Linked DNA regions of Homo sapiens. The gene in region 1 interacts genetically with each later gene. Each region holds a gene or a part of one and is shown on either strand. Other genes may lie near its edges. The genes, in order: DNAJC16 and GBF1.

Region 1 (7,441 bases):
TTATAAGTAAGCTAGAGATGATTTAAAGTATATGAGAGGACGTGCATAGATTATATGCAAATACTATGCTATTTTATATAGGGACTTGAGCATCCAATGACTTTGGTATTTCTGGGGATCCTGGAACCAAGACCTCATGGATATCAAGAGACAACTATCCTTGGTTTCTGAATTTTTTTTTTTGGAGGCAAAAGGCTATTACTCTTAACTTTTTTTCAAAGTGTAGAAATTAATAATTTAGAGAATAGGGTTGTATAGTGTTCCTGTTTAGCAATTACACTCATAAAGTTACTTTATGAATAATGTATCATGGGAAGGGTAGCATATCCATTATTGACTATATATACATTTTTTTAAAATTAAAACTTGTTACTTTAACATTAAATATGCTAACAGTATCTAAGGCAATTCTTTAAGCCAAAGTATTCCTAAAAGGGAGTTTCAGAGTAAACATAGGCTTTGGATCTTATCGCTAACAATTATAGAACATGAACATTAGCTCTCCTGCGTAAAATATTTTAGACAGATATATATATTGAACATAGAAACAGAGACAAATAAAAGCTAGTCATAATTTAGACTTCATCCCTGCTAAGACTGTTTAGCTTATGTTAAACCTCTATTTCTTTGTTTCACCTACCATTCCCGGGCGAGCTTCTTATAAGCCTTTTTAATATCAGCCTGACTGGCTGTTCGGCTGACCCCTAGGACTCTGTATGGGTCAAAATCCAACGCAGACAGAATTTGCAGGATCAGAACCAGAACTATCAAGAACTGCCAGGAAATGCTCAACTTTCTCACTTCCATTTCTCTTCCTTTCCAGAGCTGAAATGATTGAAGAGGCAATGAGTTTCAGTGGCAGAAACCTGGACAGTCTTGCTTTTTAGGTAAAGGTATAAGATATATAGATGAAAAACAAAACCAACAAAAGGTATTTTGCAGGAAAAGTGTCAAGCTGTTGAACTGTATCTTAAAATAAAAATCTCGCTACTGCTTTTGAATATCACAAATGAGAACTATTACAGATGAAAAGATGAGTAATAAGAATAGCAACTCTCCAGAACACTTTGACTAGAAAAGCTTTAGAAATGAATGAAAATGAATGGGATGCAGAAATAATACATAAATGAGAGAAAACCTAAATAGGATAATCAGGACGACTACCTCTCAAATACATGATTTCATTTATTCTGATAAGAATAAATAAAATAAATGGTTTAAGAATACTTCATTGAGTACATGTTAAACAAACTCATGAAACTGTAAGATTTACCATGTACAAAACTACAAAATGAGATAGTTGTGGCATTCTTGGGCATTAAATAAGTACAAACATGGACGTGAAACACTCTCAAAAAACTGTGTAGTTAAGACGCAGTATGCCTCAATTCTATTCTTTCTCACCACACCATTCAAACAAGAAAATGAGAAGCTGCTCTTTAATCATTAGTAATATGGTGTTTTTTTGTTTTTTTTTTTTGAGACGGAGTTTCACTCGTTGCCCAGGCTGGAGTGCAATGATGGGATCTCAGCTCACTGCAACCTCCCCCTCCCAGGTTCAAGCAAGTCTCCTGTCTCAGCCTCCCCAGTAGCTGGGATTACAGGCATGCGCCACCCTGCCTAGCTAATTTTTTGTATTTTTAGTAGAGACAGGGTTTCACCATGTTGGCCAGGCTGGTTTTGAACTCCTGACCTCAGGTGATCCACCCGCCTCGGCCTCCCAAAGTGTTGGGATTACAGGCGTGAGCCATCGCGCCGGCCAATATGGTCATTATTAATGGAAACCTCAGATGAGAAAAAGCGGCAAGAAAAAATTTAGTTTTACATGTGAAGAAGAATTAACGGCAAAGACCAAATAGCAGGCGTGGTCTTTAAAAGTTTCAAGCTCCATCTCTGGTGAGTACAGTGACTTAATTCATTGTGAATTTTGGAAATAATCCTGGCTGGTTAATGAACAGGGTAGTGCTGGAACTGCAGATATTTATACTCCACAATTATGATTGCTGTTATACCCTACAATGTTTTTTTTCAAGGAACACATTTATCTTGATTTCTCACAAGTTAATACAGTTTTAAGGTTCAAGTGTCTTCTGTGACACCTTACTGAAGAAGGGCAAAGCTATAACAGTGGTGGATTTCCGTAAGTGCAAGTTTAATGCCGCCTGGGAGTCCTCACAAAATTGACTAATCTGATGACCAACGTTTAAAATTGCATACGTGCTGAATAAAATCCTAAAACAAACCAGTTTCTTCTTTGTTAAGGCAACCTATTATATCCTAGAAAACACGTGAAGGCAATGTAGCTACTGGTTAAGCATATGGGTTGAAGACTAGGATCTATTCTCCACTACTTTATTACCTTGGGCAAATTATTTAAACTTACTAAGCATCAGCGTCCTTATTCATAAAATGGGAATGAATACTACCACCTTGAAGGATCATCATGTGGGGACTAAATGCATGTAAAGGGTTTACTGAGCCCAGAGTCAACAGTCAACAAATGGTCGTTAGTGCTATTATTTCTACCATGCAGTACGATCGCTGCCTTATTTAACCATGTCAGTTCCTTCCAGCTAGAGGGCCGAAGTGGCGGTGGTCTGGGAAGTTCTTTAGCTGACATGCGAGATAGACGGCGCCGACCTCGGAGCAGCAAACACCTGCCCAACAGGTAGGCTGCCAGCTCTCTGGGCAGCATATCCAGGACCAGGAAGAAGCTCCCAGAGACAAGCTCCAGGTCTAAGCCCCGCCTCGCGCTCCTGCCGGAGGTCGCAACCCTGCAGGAGACAGCCCCCTCCCCCGCCGCCCTCCGAGAGCCCAGGGCCCGGCCCTGTTGGCTCCCGGCTCCCCCCGGGGCCAGCAGTGACTGGAAACGAGAAGGAACTGAGGGGAAATCCCTGAGTCGGCCTGGCCCCGCCGCGTCCGCGGTTCCGCGCGTCACGCCGGGAAGGAGTTACCGGGAAAGTACACCGGCCCAACCGGCTGCAGCTCCGTGCTCCAGTTAGTTCGCCGGGCCGGGAGCTTCCCGTCCACACCAGCGCTCGCCTGGGCCTGGGGAGGGGAAAGAGGAGGGGACAAGCCCGAGGGGAGTCACGTGACGCTTAAAGGTCTATCGCACTGAAGGCGAGGACCGAACAGGTCGAGGGCGTCTACTGGGCGAATCTATTTTGACCCTTGCCACTCGCCGTCTAGGCGTGGACCTGGGGTGGTTGCTATAGAAACGAGGCGCGCTCTTTGGTTGCAGCCAAAAGGCTGATCGTGACCAAAGAGGCCAAAACGTGCCTCCTAGCGAGGCGAAGTCGCTATGCATGATGGGATACCAGAAGGACCTCCTCGATCCAGGAAGGTGTTTCCGCTCCTACCGGGAGATGGCCCTCGTCTAGCAACAGTTGCTAGGATGGGGACGCACTCTCTGGTCCCTATTCTCTTTAACCCTATTCGTAGAACCTTAGAGCGTCAGATTGGAAGTGACCTTAGGGATTCTTTAACTCTCCAACTCCTGCAATATTGATAGGGAGACCGAGGTCCAGAGAGGGGCAGAGATTTGCCCAAGGCCTAGAATCCAGCATTCCTTTTATTTTTGTTTACTTATCTTTTTTTTTTTTGAGAGAATCCAGGACTTTTAATCCCGTTTACCGAAAACCGAGCTCCACCCAAGAATGTACCAGTCTGTGCCTTAAGCACGGGGAAAGGGCGGTGGGGGTGGAGAGAGGGATAAGGCACAGGTAAGTGAAGGAAACTTTCTTTGAGCCAATGAGATAGATCCCTTGCGGATATAAAGAGCTTTCATATCTCCCTGTCTTGTTTTTATTTTTTTCTCTTTGCATTTATCACTATCTAACATAGTATGTCTTATTTATTGATATAGTTTATCACCTGATCCTTCCACTGGAATGTAAACTCTAAAAGCAGGGATTTTGTTTTGTTCACCTTCATGTTCTTAGTGTTTGACTACAGGCTCAATAAATATTCGTAGAAGTGAACGAATGGGGCTGAGGTTTTGGTGCTCAAGAGATTATATTCTAAGGTGGATTCTTAAGAGTGTGGCTTACAGAGTCAGGTTCGGGTTTCAATCCTGCCTGCCTCGGCCACTTAGTACCCAAGTGACCTTAAACATTCGTTTCCCTGAACCCTAGGGTCTACATCTGTAAAACCGGCGGGGGGTGGGAATACTTTCCTGGCAGGATTGTAGTTAAGGATAAGTGAAATAAGCATGAAAAGTGGCTAGCACGATGCCTGGGACTTAGCAAATGCTCAGTAAACAGAAACGATTATTTTTGAAATGTGAAAATGAACCGTTCAGAACGATGGGAGTTTACAGGACTAGATTTCTGCCGTTTTTTTTTTTTTCTGTGTGGGAGGTGTTAGGGTGGGAGGGAGGGAAGAGGGAATGGAAGACTGTGTAAGGTGGGCTTGGTTGGATCAGACACTCGAGTTTGGAACAGTCAACTGCGATCTGGGCACAAGGGCGGTGAGGGGAGCTTATGGTTTTACTTGGGGTGGAGGAGGGGGCTAAGGGGAAGCCATGCCCCGGAGGAGGTTGAATGGGCGGGACAGATCACGGCTCCACTCATGGTTTCCCTCTTGCTGGAAGTGTGACGACTCCCTCCGGATCTCTGTAAAAGCGGGGCTATAGTGAATTCTGGCGAAGGGCCCGCGGTGGACCAGGAACTGGTGCCAGAATTGCAAAAGGGCACCTGCGCCCGGAGTGGGGAGGTGATGCGGGGGCGGGGCGGGGCCCTGGGGGCGGGGCGAGTCGCGGAGGTGCCGCCTTGGGGCGGGGCGGTGACAGAAGGATGGATCCTGGGGGTGAGGATTGACTTTGGGGGCGGGGCGAGAGTGCGAACTGGAGTCTGAGGCTGAGCGGTGACGCAAGGACGATTCTGAGGGTGGAGCGAGGGGAGGGGATTGGCTCTTGGAGGCGGGGCGGTGGCACGAGGCTAGCCCTTGGGGGCGGGGCGGTGGCGCAAGATTGACCTTGGGGGCGGGGTGGGGGCGTGGGTTGAATCCTGGGGGCGGGGCGGTGGCGCGGAATGGATTCTGGGGTCGGCGCGAGGCGCTGAGGTGCGTCCTGAGGGCGGGGCGATGACGCAGAGCGAATCCTGGGGGCGGGGCGAGACCTTCTAGATGCGTCCCGGGGAGTGGGCGGTGACGCGGTGGCAGGTTCTGGGGACAGGCGGTGACCCCAGAATTGACCCTGGGGACAGGGCGAGGCGCGGAGGCGTCCTGAAGGCGAGGCGGTGACGCAAGAGCGAATCCTTGGGGCGGGGCGAGGCGTTGGAGATGCGTCCTGCGGGCGGGACGGTAACGCGGGGGCGGGGCGGTGACGTGAGGTCAGTGCGGGGATACGGGGCGGGTTCTGGGGCGGGGACGCAGTGGTGGATTCTGGAGCGGGGCGGTGACGTGGGGCGGGTTCTGGGGCGGGGCGGTGACGCGGAGCGTGTTCTGGGGCGGCGCGGTGATGGGAGGCTTGGCCCTGGGGGCGGGGCGAGGCGCAGAGGTGCGTCCTGAGGGCGGGGCGGTGACGCAAGAGCGACTCCTGGGGGCGGGGCGAGGCCTTGGAGATGCGTCCGGAGGCGGTGGGGAGCGAAGACTGACCCGGGGCCGTGACGCGGGGGCAGGCCCTGGGGCGGGGGCGGGTCCTGGGGACTGGGGCGGGCGGCCGAGGCCCGGAAGCGGACTGAGGCGGCCTGGAGTCTTAGTTGGCTACTCGCCATGGACGAAGCGGATCGGCGGCTCCTGCGGCGGTGCCGGCTGCGGCTGGTGGAAGAGCTGCAGGTGGACCAGCTCTGGGACGCCCTGCTGAGCCGCGAGCTGTTCAGGCCCCATATGATCGAGGACATCCAGGTGCGCCCCCGGCCCCCTGTCCCCGCGCTGCACGGCCGGGTCCCCACGCCCCTCGAGGAGGCGTTGTGCGGGAGCCTAGCCTTCCCTGTGGCTTCAAACCCCTCAGCGGAGCCAAAGAATCCCAAACACCTCTTAGTCGGGTGTTCGCTAAAGCGATTCCATGCCATACTCAGTCAGCGTACACTGTTAGTGCTTGTGTTTCTTGTGTAAAGGAAAAATGTGAGACACATCTTGAGAACTTTGAATAAGAAACAATTCATGAATTGGAGAACATCAGACTGAAAGAGCTTTAGTGTTGCAATGACAAAACGTCAGAGGCAAGTATTTATTGGGAAAATGTGGAAGCAAAATAAAGAAATTATTTGATTGGTTTGCAGTTACAAAATTGCCTTTTTTTTTTAAGGTCTGTTAATTGACTGCTTTTGGCTGGTCTTAAGTTTTATTTCTCTCTAACATAAGCATTTATCAGATATGACCCAAGTTAAATTTTGCTTATGTTTGCAGTTTAAGCAAGATTTAGGTCACTTAGGATACCTGATTGGTTTTGTCTGCTCAGGAATTCTTCATGGTTGGTCTCCATTTTAATTTACGTTAATACTTGCGAGGAAGGAGGCGTGTGCGTTTTTACTTTTCTAGCATAGAGGTTTCGGGAACCCACTTTGGCATCAGGCTGCCTGGCAGCGTGTTCTTGGGCCAGTCACTTACCCTCTTTGAGCCACAGTTTCTGGGCTGTGAAATGGGAATAAGAATAATACTGTCATAAGGACTAAATGAAATAACGGATGTGAAACTGTAGTGCTAGGCACAGAGCGGGGGATCAGCGTACCCTGCCCTCTTTGGCCAGCCCCTTCTGTGTTCAGTTTATGTTTTGTTAAGAGGTTTTGGAAATGAGGGGACCTGATGCAGAATGGAGAATAATGAAGTCAAACATTTGAGGTTTTGTTTAAAAGCACTTTCCCATCTTTGTCTCATTTGACCCTCATCACAGGCCTGTGAGGATGCAGGAGATATTTCCTACCATGAGGTGCAGTAGGTGTGAGTGGCTGGCTGGATATCCCTGGCCAGTGCCCTGGCCCAGGGAAAGAGTCTTTAAATAATTGAGTATCATATGAGTAATTATTCATTAATAATAAAATAAGTTTTGTGCCTTCTGTGTGGCCCCTACTGGGGAACAGTAATGGTTTGAGGCCACAGTCCTTGCCTTCAGGAATGTTCACGGGGATCACAAACTCAAATGCCCATGGAGGACCAATGGATGGGCGTCATAGTGGATAGCCTTTGCACTGCCCTCCGTCTCCAGCTGAGTATGGCCATATCAACAAATGGCCCAGTATTGCCACATCTTACACTTATTTTGAGGCAGGGTCTCACTCTTGCCCAGCCTGGAGTGCAGGGATGAGATCATGGCTCACTGCGACCTTGACCTCCTGGGCTTAAGTGGTCTTCCTGCCTCAGCCTTTAGAGCAGCTGGGACTTTAGGCACATGCCACCATGCCTGGCTAATTAAAAAAAATTTTTTTTTTGTACAGATAGGAGTCTTGCTATGTTGCCTAGATGAGTCTCAAACTCTTGGCCTCAAGTGATTCTCCTGCCTCAG
Region 2 (7,275 bases), on another chromosome or scaffold:
GGAGGTAGCAGGAAGGACATAGGATTTCCAGTGGGCATGATGGATGGGGTTCTGTCCAAGGGAATCAGGAAGGGCTGGCCAACCTAGAAAAGGGACTGGGGTGGGGAAGTGGGTTTTTTCGCTTACCTTTTCCTAAGTCCTATTTACTGAAAACCCAGGAGTTCCTTAGGTGGGGCTTCAGTGTTGACACAAGGGGAAAAAACTTACTGGCCTGTCTCTAGGAGTTTCGCAAAAATCTGAAAGGTGTGAATGGAGGCAAGGACTTTGAGCAAGACATCCTGGAGGACATGTACCATGCCATCAAGTGAGTATACATAGAGAATAGTGCAGTATCTCTGTTAAGAAGAAGCACATTGCTTCCTTTCCCAGTTTTTAGAGTCATGTCAGACTGCAGTGACTCACATGCCCTGGATTTAGCCTCAGGACTTAGTTGGGCAGCCCCCTCTCTGCCAACTGTTTCTTCCTTAAAGAAGCCCAAATGATATTGGGACTCTAGTACTCTAAGCCAGGGTCCAAAGTGCTGCTCTTAAGTAGGATATCATGGCCCCATTTTCTGAACTTAAAACAGGTACATTTTCCTGTATAGATTACAAGATGCTGGCTGGTAGAGAACCCAAGATGGGCACTGGAGTGTGAGGCCCAGGTTACAGGTCAGAAATGGGCCACTTAGTTTTTTACTGTAAATCAGAAAAGGTAGAATTGTTCATTTTATCACACCTAGTAAGAATGTGTGATCTTACTATAGAACTAAAGGCCTCACTTACAGATAGGGCTTTGAGATTATGGGACACTTCCTTTCTTTCTGTCTGCTCCCACTGGTGGGTGGAAAGCAGACCACTGAGCTGCAGTTCTGATGACCTCTCATCAGTGGAGAGTGCTAGTATGGATGAACTCCTAGTCTTGGTTTGGAACTAGTCAGGTTCAAAGCAGTGCAACTGCTCCTTCCCTTACCTCCTGACAGGAATGAGGAAATTGTAATGCCTGAGGAGCAGACAGGCTTGGTTCGGGAGAACTATGTGTGGAATGTGCTGCTTCATCGAGGTGCCACCCCTGAGGGCATATTCCTGCGTGTGCCTACTGCCAGCTATGATCTTGACCTCTTCACCATGACCTGGGGCCCCACTATTGCTGCTCTCTCTTATGTCTTTGACAAAAGCCTTGAGGAGACAATCATCCAGAAAGCCATCTCAGGCTTCAGGTAGCCCAGCTTTGGCCTTGGTCTTCACCTCCCACTAGCTCTGTGAGCTAACATGGTTTTCTCCATGCCTCTCTGACTCCTACTGTTACTTCATTAGAATGGGGTTCCCCCTGAGTTTTTGGAGGGAGGCTGAAGCTTGGGTAGGCTCAGTCTTAAACAGAAACAAAATTAAAAGGTTTCTTCCTGGGACTGACTGGGGAAGAGCCCCATGCAAGCTCAGGGACTTGGAAGGGCTGCTTGGCCTTCCAGTGACTCTGTTTCTGGGATGGGGGGTAACATTACAGGAAGTGCGCCATGATCTCCGCCCACTATGGCCTCAGCGATGTGTTTGACAATCTCATCATCTCTCTATGCAAATTCACAGCTCTCAGCAGTGAGGTGAGCAGGTGCAGGAACTGTGTACTTGGAGCTCCAAAGGAGGACCTCTCTTTTAGCCATGGATCTACCCTTATCAACAGACCTGGTTGCCCTCAGCGTCTTCCCTCACTGCCCCCACTTGAATATACCAGAGCTTAGGCCATTTCTGTCTTGCACACTCTGGGATAAAACTAGTGTTACTTCATGTAATGGGGATGGGAAAGGAGATACAGGAGTGGGGAAGGCCTTAACTAGGTTAACCCACTCCCACCAGTATTATGGGGGATTGAAGCAGAGCCAACAAAAGGACCTGAGGGAACCATCATAGGCAGAGACCTAAGAGATTTTCCTTTCCAGACATTAGCTCGGCCTTAAGTCTGTTCTCTTCCTCTTTTCCAGTCTATTGAGAACCTGCCCAGTGTATTTGGAAGCAACCCTAAAGCCCATATTGCAGCCAAGACAGTATTCCATTTGGCCCATCGTCATGGTGACATCCTGCGGGAGGGCTGGAAGAATATCATGGAGGCCATGCTGCAGCTCTTCCGAGCCCAACTACTGCCCAAGGCTATGATAGAGGTAATTCTTAGTAGGAGACTAGTGAGCGATAACAAGGCAAGAGCTGCAACATTGTATGCTACCTGTACATAGAAGTAAGTGGTTGAGAGTAATGTTGGGCCTGATGCCTGCCACAGCTCACCAGGAATGCCTCAAATGTAAGACCACAGATCTTGGGGGATAGCTGTAAAAGAAGGCTGGTAGATGCCATTGCCAGTCACCAATTGGCACAATAGCATAGGGGCAGAAGACTAGAGGAGGAAATCCAGAGAACTTTGGTGGGTGGAGGCGGGCACAAATGCAAAGGACACATGGAAAGAAATTATTTTGACTTACTTTTCCAGGTAGAAGATTTCGTGGATCCCAATGGCAAGATCTCTCTACAGCGGGAAGAGACACCATCAAACCGGTAAGAGCAGACCAGAGGCTCAGGGGCTTGGGGAGGGAGAGTCAGAACTTTGGGGCTCACCAGGCCATGTGCCCTTTTTCTACAGAGGAGAGTCAACAGTGCTGAGCTTTGTGAGCTGGCTAACACTGAGTGGTCCTGAGCAGTCTAGTGTTCGGGGCCCATCCACTGAAAACCAAGAGGCCAAGAGAGTGGCCTTAGAGTGTATAAAGGTAACTGCCCATCCACCCCTGGTGAGAAAGCCTAAACACCTTCCTATTAGATGCTACTTGGTGAACTGAAGAATAAATCATCCAGGATTTGTAACCAGGGCTGACTCTGCCCTCTCCCCCTGGCTCTTGGGGACATTCTGTTCTCTTCAGCCTTTGTCAAAGACCCCCTCTCTCTTTTGCCCTCTCTAGCAATGTGACCCAGAAAAAATGATCACAGAAAGCAAGTTCCTCCAGCTGGAGTCACTACAGGAGCTCATGAAGGTAAAGGATGAAGAAAGGAAACATGGAACAACTGGCTGAATCTGGGAGGGGTGACAGGGACAGTATTATTTCTGTCAGGGCAGGGCCAGTGGTTGGCTTCTTTTCCATGCCTACTTTCCTGCTGCTGTTCCCCTTCAGGCTCTGGTCTCAGTGACACCAGATGAAGAGACATATGATGAGGAAGATGCTGCTTTCTGCCTAGAGATGCTGCTAAGGATTGTGTTGGAGAACAGGTAAGATGAGCGTAGTCTTTAGGCAGACCCCATGCTGGGCTTGTGCCAAAGGGATGGAAGCCATCTTGCTGAGTGGGCTCTGGGGAACTGTAGGCAGCAGGGGAGAAGCTTACTCATCATACCTGTCTACTTAGGGTATAATACCAATGAGTCCTGAAAGGCCTAGGGGACCTGTTGCCCAGTGGCCCCTCTGGCTGAGACTATCTTCATTCCTTTATGTCTACACAGGGATCGTGTGGGCTGTGTGTGGCAGACTGTTCGAGACCATCTATACCACCTCTGTGTTCAGGCACAAGATTTCTGCTTCCTTGTGGAGCGGGCAGTGGTGGGGTTGCTACGCCTGGCCATTCGGCTTCTCCGGAGAGAAGAGATCAGTGCTCAGGTAAGCAGAATGCATCTTGGAGAGTGGGCAGGTATGCAAGGGATTAAGGCCACAGTTGTCAATTATGAATATGGCCTGAGACAGAGAGTACATTTAGTGCCCCATAGCATGAGTCCAGTGACCAACCACAGGGCTGGTGCAGTCTAGCGGGTGGTACTGGGAGTGAGCCTGGAATGGCCTCAGGCATGGAGCTTGTGTTTGGCACCTCAGCCTCCTATGAATCTGCTTTGTAGGACTGGCCTGCTACTGCCTTATAATAGTCTCAGCCCTATACCTGGTTTCCTGTCATGCTTATGACCCTCTTGAGATCTCTTTGCTTAACTACAAAAAACAACAAGCATAGAACTAATAAGTGGATTCAACAAGGTCACAGGATGTGAGATCAATACACAAAAAGTAATTATATCTCTACATGCTAACAATGAACAATATGGAAACTGAAATTTAAAATACAATACCATTTACAAGGGTTCCAAATAAAGTGAAATACTTAATATATAGCTGACAAAACATGTATAAGATTTGTATGATGAAAACTACAAAACTACAAAATAAATTGAAGAAGATGTAAATAAATGAAGAGGCATACTATGTTCATGGATTGGAAGGCTCAACATAGTAACTTTGTCACTTCTCCCCAAATTGATCTGTAAATTCAACATAACTCCTATAAAAATCCCAGAAAGGTTCTTGTAGACATAGGTAAGCTTATTCTAAAATTTAGATGGAAAGGCACAAGCTCTAGAATAGCTAGAAAGAATAAAGTGGAAAGAATCACTCTCTCTGGGCCGGTTGCTGTGGTTCATGCCTGTAATCTCAGCACTGCGGGAGGCCACAGCGGGCAGATCACTTGAGGTCAGGAGTTCAAGGCCAGCCTGGCCAACATGGTGAAACCCCATCTCTACTAAAAACACAAAAATTAGCAGGGTGTGGTGGCACACACCTGTAATCCTAGCTACTTGGGAGGCTGAGGCAGGAGAATCGCTTGAACTCAAGGCGGAGGTTGCAGTGAGCTGAGATCGCGCCACTGCACTCCAGCTGGGTGACAGAGTGAGATTCTGTCTCAAAAAAAAAAAAAAAGAATCACTCTGGTATTAAGACTTACTGTCCACTTTGGGGGGCTGAGGCGGGTGGATCACGAGGTCAGGAGATCAAGACCAGCCTGACTAACGTGGTGAAACCCCGTCTCTACTAAAAATAGAAAAATTAGCTGGGCGTGATGGTGAGCGCCTGATTGCTACTCGGGAGGCTGAGGCAGGAGAATCGCTTGAACCTGGGAGGCGGAGGTTGCAGTGAGCCAAGATTGCGCCACTGCACTCCAGCCTGGGCAACACAGCGAGACTCCATCTCAAAAAAAAAAAAAGACTTACTCTCGGCTGGACACAGTGGCTCACGTCTGTAATCCCAACACTTTGTGAGGCCAAGGCAGGCAATCACCTGAGGTTGGGAGTTCGAGACCAGCCTGACCAACATGGAGAAACCTCGTCTCTACTAAAAATACAGAATTAGCCAGGCATGGTGGGGCATGCCTGTAATCCCAGCTACTCAGGAGGCTGAGGCAGGAGAATCACTTGAACCTGGGAGGCAGAGGTTGTAGTAAGCCAAGATCACACCATTGCACTCCAGCCTGGACAGCGAAACTCTGTCTCAAAAAAAAGACTTACTGTATAGCTATAGTAGTCAAGATTATGTGGTGTCGATGGAGGGACAGACACGTAGATCAATGGAAAAGAATAGAGAGACCAGAAATAAGCTCAACACAAATATGTTCAGTGGATTTTTTGACCAAGATGTAAGAACAATTCAGTGGAGGAGGAATAGCCTTTTCAATAAGTGGTGGAGTGATTAAAATCCATAGGAGGAAAAACCAAATGAACCTTGACCTAAACCTCATACCTTACAGGAAAATTAACTCCAATGGATCATAGATTTAAATGTAAAGCTATAAAAACTTTAGAAACAGGAGAAAATCTTCAGGATCTAGAGCTAAGCAAAGAATTTTTAGCATGTTTGGCAGTCCTGTGGATCTGTCTCTTGCCTCAACACTGTCTGGATGGAACAGATCCGGGGGAGACTCTCTTTCAAAAAAAGTAATAATTTTTAGACTTGACATTAAAAGCACAATCTAGAAAAGGAAAAATTGATAAGTTGGGCTACATTAATATTTTTAAAAGTTTTGTTCTATGAGAGCCTATGTGAAGAGGATGAAAAGACAAGCTGTAGACGAGGAGGAAATATTTGCAAATCACATATTTGAAGAAAGGTATCTGTAATATAAAAACTCTCAAAACACAACAGTGATAAAACAATCCAATTATTAATAGAAAATGGACAAAACATAGGAACAGATGTTTCACCAAAGAACACATACAGATGGCAGATAGGCACATGAAATGAAGATAGCATCATTAACCATCAGAGTACTGCAAACTAAAACCACAATGAGGCTCACACCTGTAAGCCCAGCACTTTGGGAGGCTGAGGTGGGTGGATCACCTGAGGTCAGGAGTTTGAGCCCAGCCTGGCCAACATGGTGAAACCATGTCTCTACCAATAAATACAAAAATTAGCTGGGCGTGGTCACACACACCTGTAGTCTCACCTACTGAGGAGATTGAGGTGGGAGGATCGCTTGAACGCAGGAGGTTGCAGTGAGCTGAGATCGTGCCACTGCACTCCTGCCTGGGTGACAGAGCAAGACTCCAAAAAATAAAAACACAATGAGACATCACTACCCACTTTTCAGAATGGCTGAAATAAAAAGTAGTGACAATACCAAATGCTGAAAGGACGTGGAGAAACTGGGTCATTCATATATTGCTGGGTGGGAATGTAAAATGGTACAGCTACTCTGCTGGCAGTTTCTTATAAAATGAAACATATAATTACCATACAACCCAGCAATTGCACCCTTGGACATTTATCCCAGAAAAGTGAAAGCTTACTTTCTCATAAAAACCTGTACATGAATGTTTATAGAAGCCTTAGTTGTAATAGCCAAAAACTGGAATCGGCCCAGATGACTTTCAATAGGTGAATAAACTGTGGTACATACACACCATGGAATACTATTCAGCAATTTAAAGCAACAGACATCTCCAGGGAACTATGCTGAGTGAAAGAAAAGCCAATCTAAAAAGGTTATGTAATATATAATTCCACTTATATAACATTTTTGAAATGACAGAACTTTAGAATTTGAAGACAGGCTGGGCGCAGTGGCTCACACCTGTAATCCCAGCACTTTGGGAAACTGAGGCTGGTGAATCACTTGAGGTCAGGAGTTCGAGACCAGCCTGGCCAACATGGTGAAACCCCATCTCTACTAAAAATACAAAAATTAGCCAGGCGTGGTGGCTCGCACCTGTAATCCCATCTACTTGGGAGGCTGAGGCAGGAGAATCACTTGAACATGGGAAGCAGAGGTTGCAGTGAGCTGAGATCCTGCCTGCACTCTAGCCTGGGCAACAGAGTAAGACTCCATCTCAAAAAAAAAAAGAATTTGAAGACAGATTGCTAAGGATTAGGGATGGGGGCAGGAAGGAGGAGGTGGGTGTGGTTATAAAAGGGCAACATGAGCTGGGCATGGTGGTGCATGCCTGTAGTTCCAGCTACTCTGGAGGCTGAGACAGGAGGATCACTTGCGCCCAGGAGTTTGAGGCTGCTGTGAG

Evidence for each region.
Region 2: changes in DNAJC16 (region 1) and GBF1 together harm fitness more than expected from each alone (negative genetic interaction), as found in Homo sapiens cells (one study listed by BioGRID).

What each region holds. Positions count from the first base shown.
Region 1 is NC_000001.11:15,522,472-15,529,912, reverse strand, and holds the start of DNAJC16 (dnaJ homolog subfamily C member 16 isoform 1 precursor), read right to left. Parts: upstream 3,066-7,441; 5' UTR 2,955-3,065; intron 826-2,954; 5' UTR 808-825; coding exon 641-807; intron 1-640. Other genes in the region: CASP9 (caspase-9), read left to right, coding at 5,713-5,844. UniProt on the Homo sapiens protein: Plays an important role in regulating the size of autophagosomes during the formation process.
Region 2 is NC_000010.11:102,367,257-102,374,531, forward strand, and holds part of GBF1 (Golgi-specific brefeldin A-resistance guanine nucleotide exchange factor 1), read left to right. Parts: intron 1-221; coding exon 222-304; intron 305-961; coding exon 962-1,198; intron 1,199-1,482; coding exon 1,483-1,576; intron 1,577-1,954; coding exon 1,955-2,131; intron 2,132-2,454; coding exon 2,455-2,519; intron 2,520-2,604; coding exon 2,605-2,728; intron 2,729-2,917; coding exon 2,918-2,989; intron 2,990-3,127; coding exon 3,128-3,222; intron 3,223-3,450; coding exon 3,451-3,604; intron 3,605-7,275. UniProt on the Homo sapiens protein: Guanine-nucleotide exchange factor (GEF) for members of the Arf family of small GTPases involved in trafficking in the early secretory pathway; its GEF activity initiates the coating of nascent vesicles via the localized generation of activated ARFs through replacement of GDP with GTP.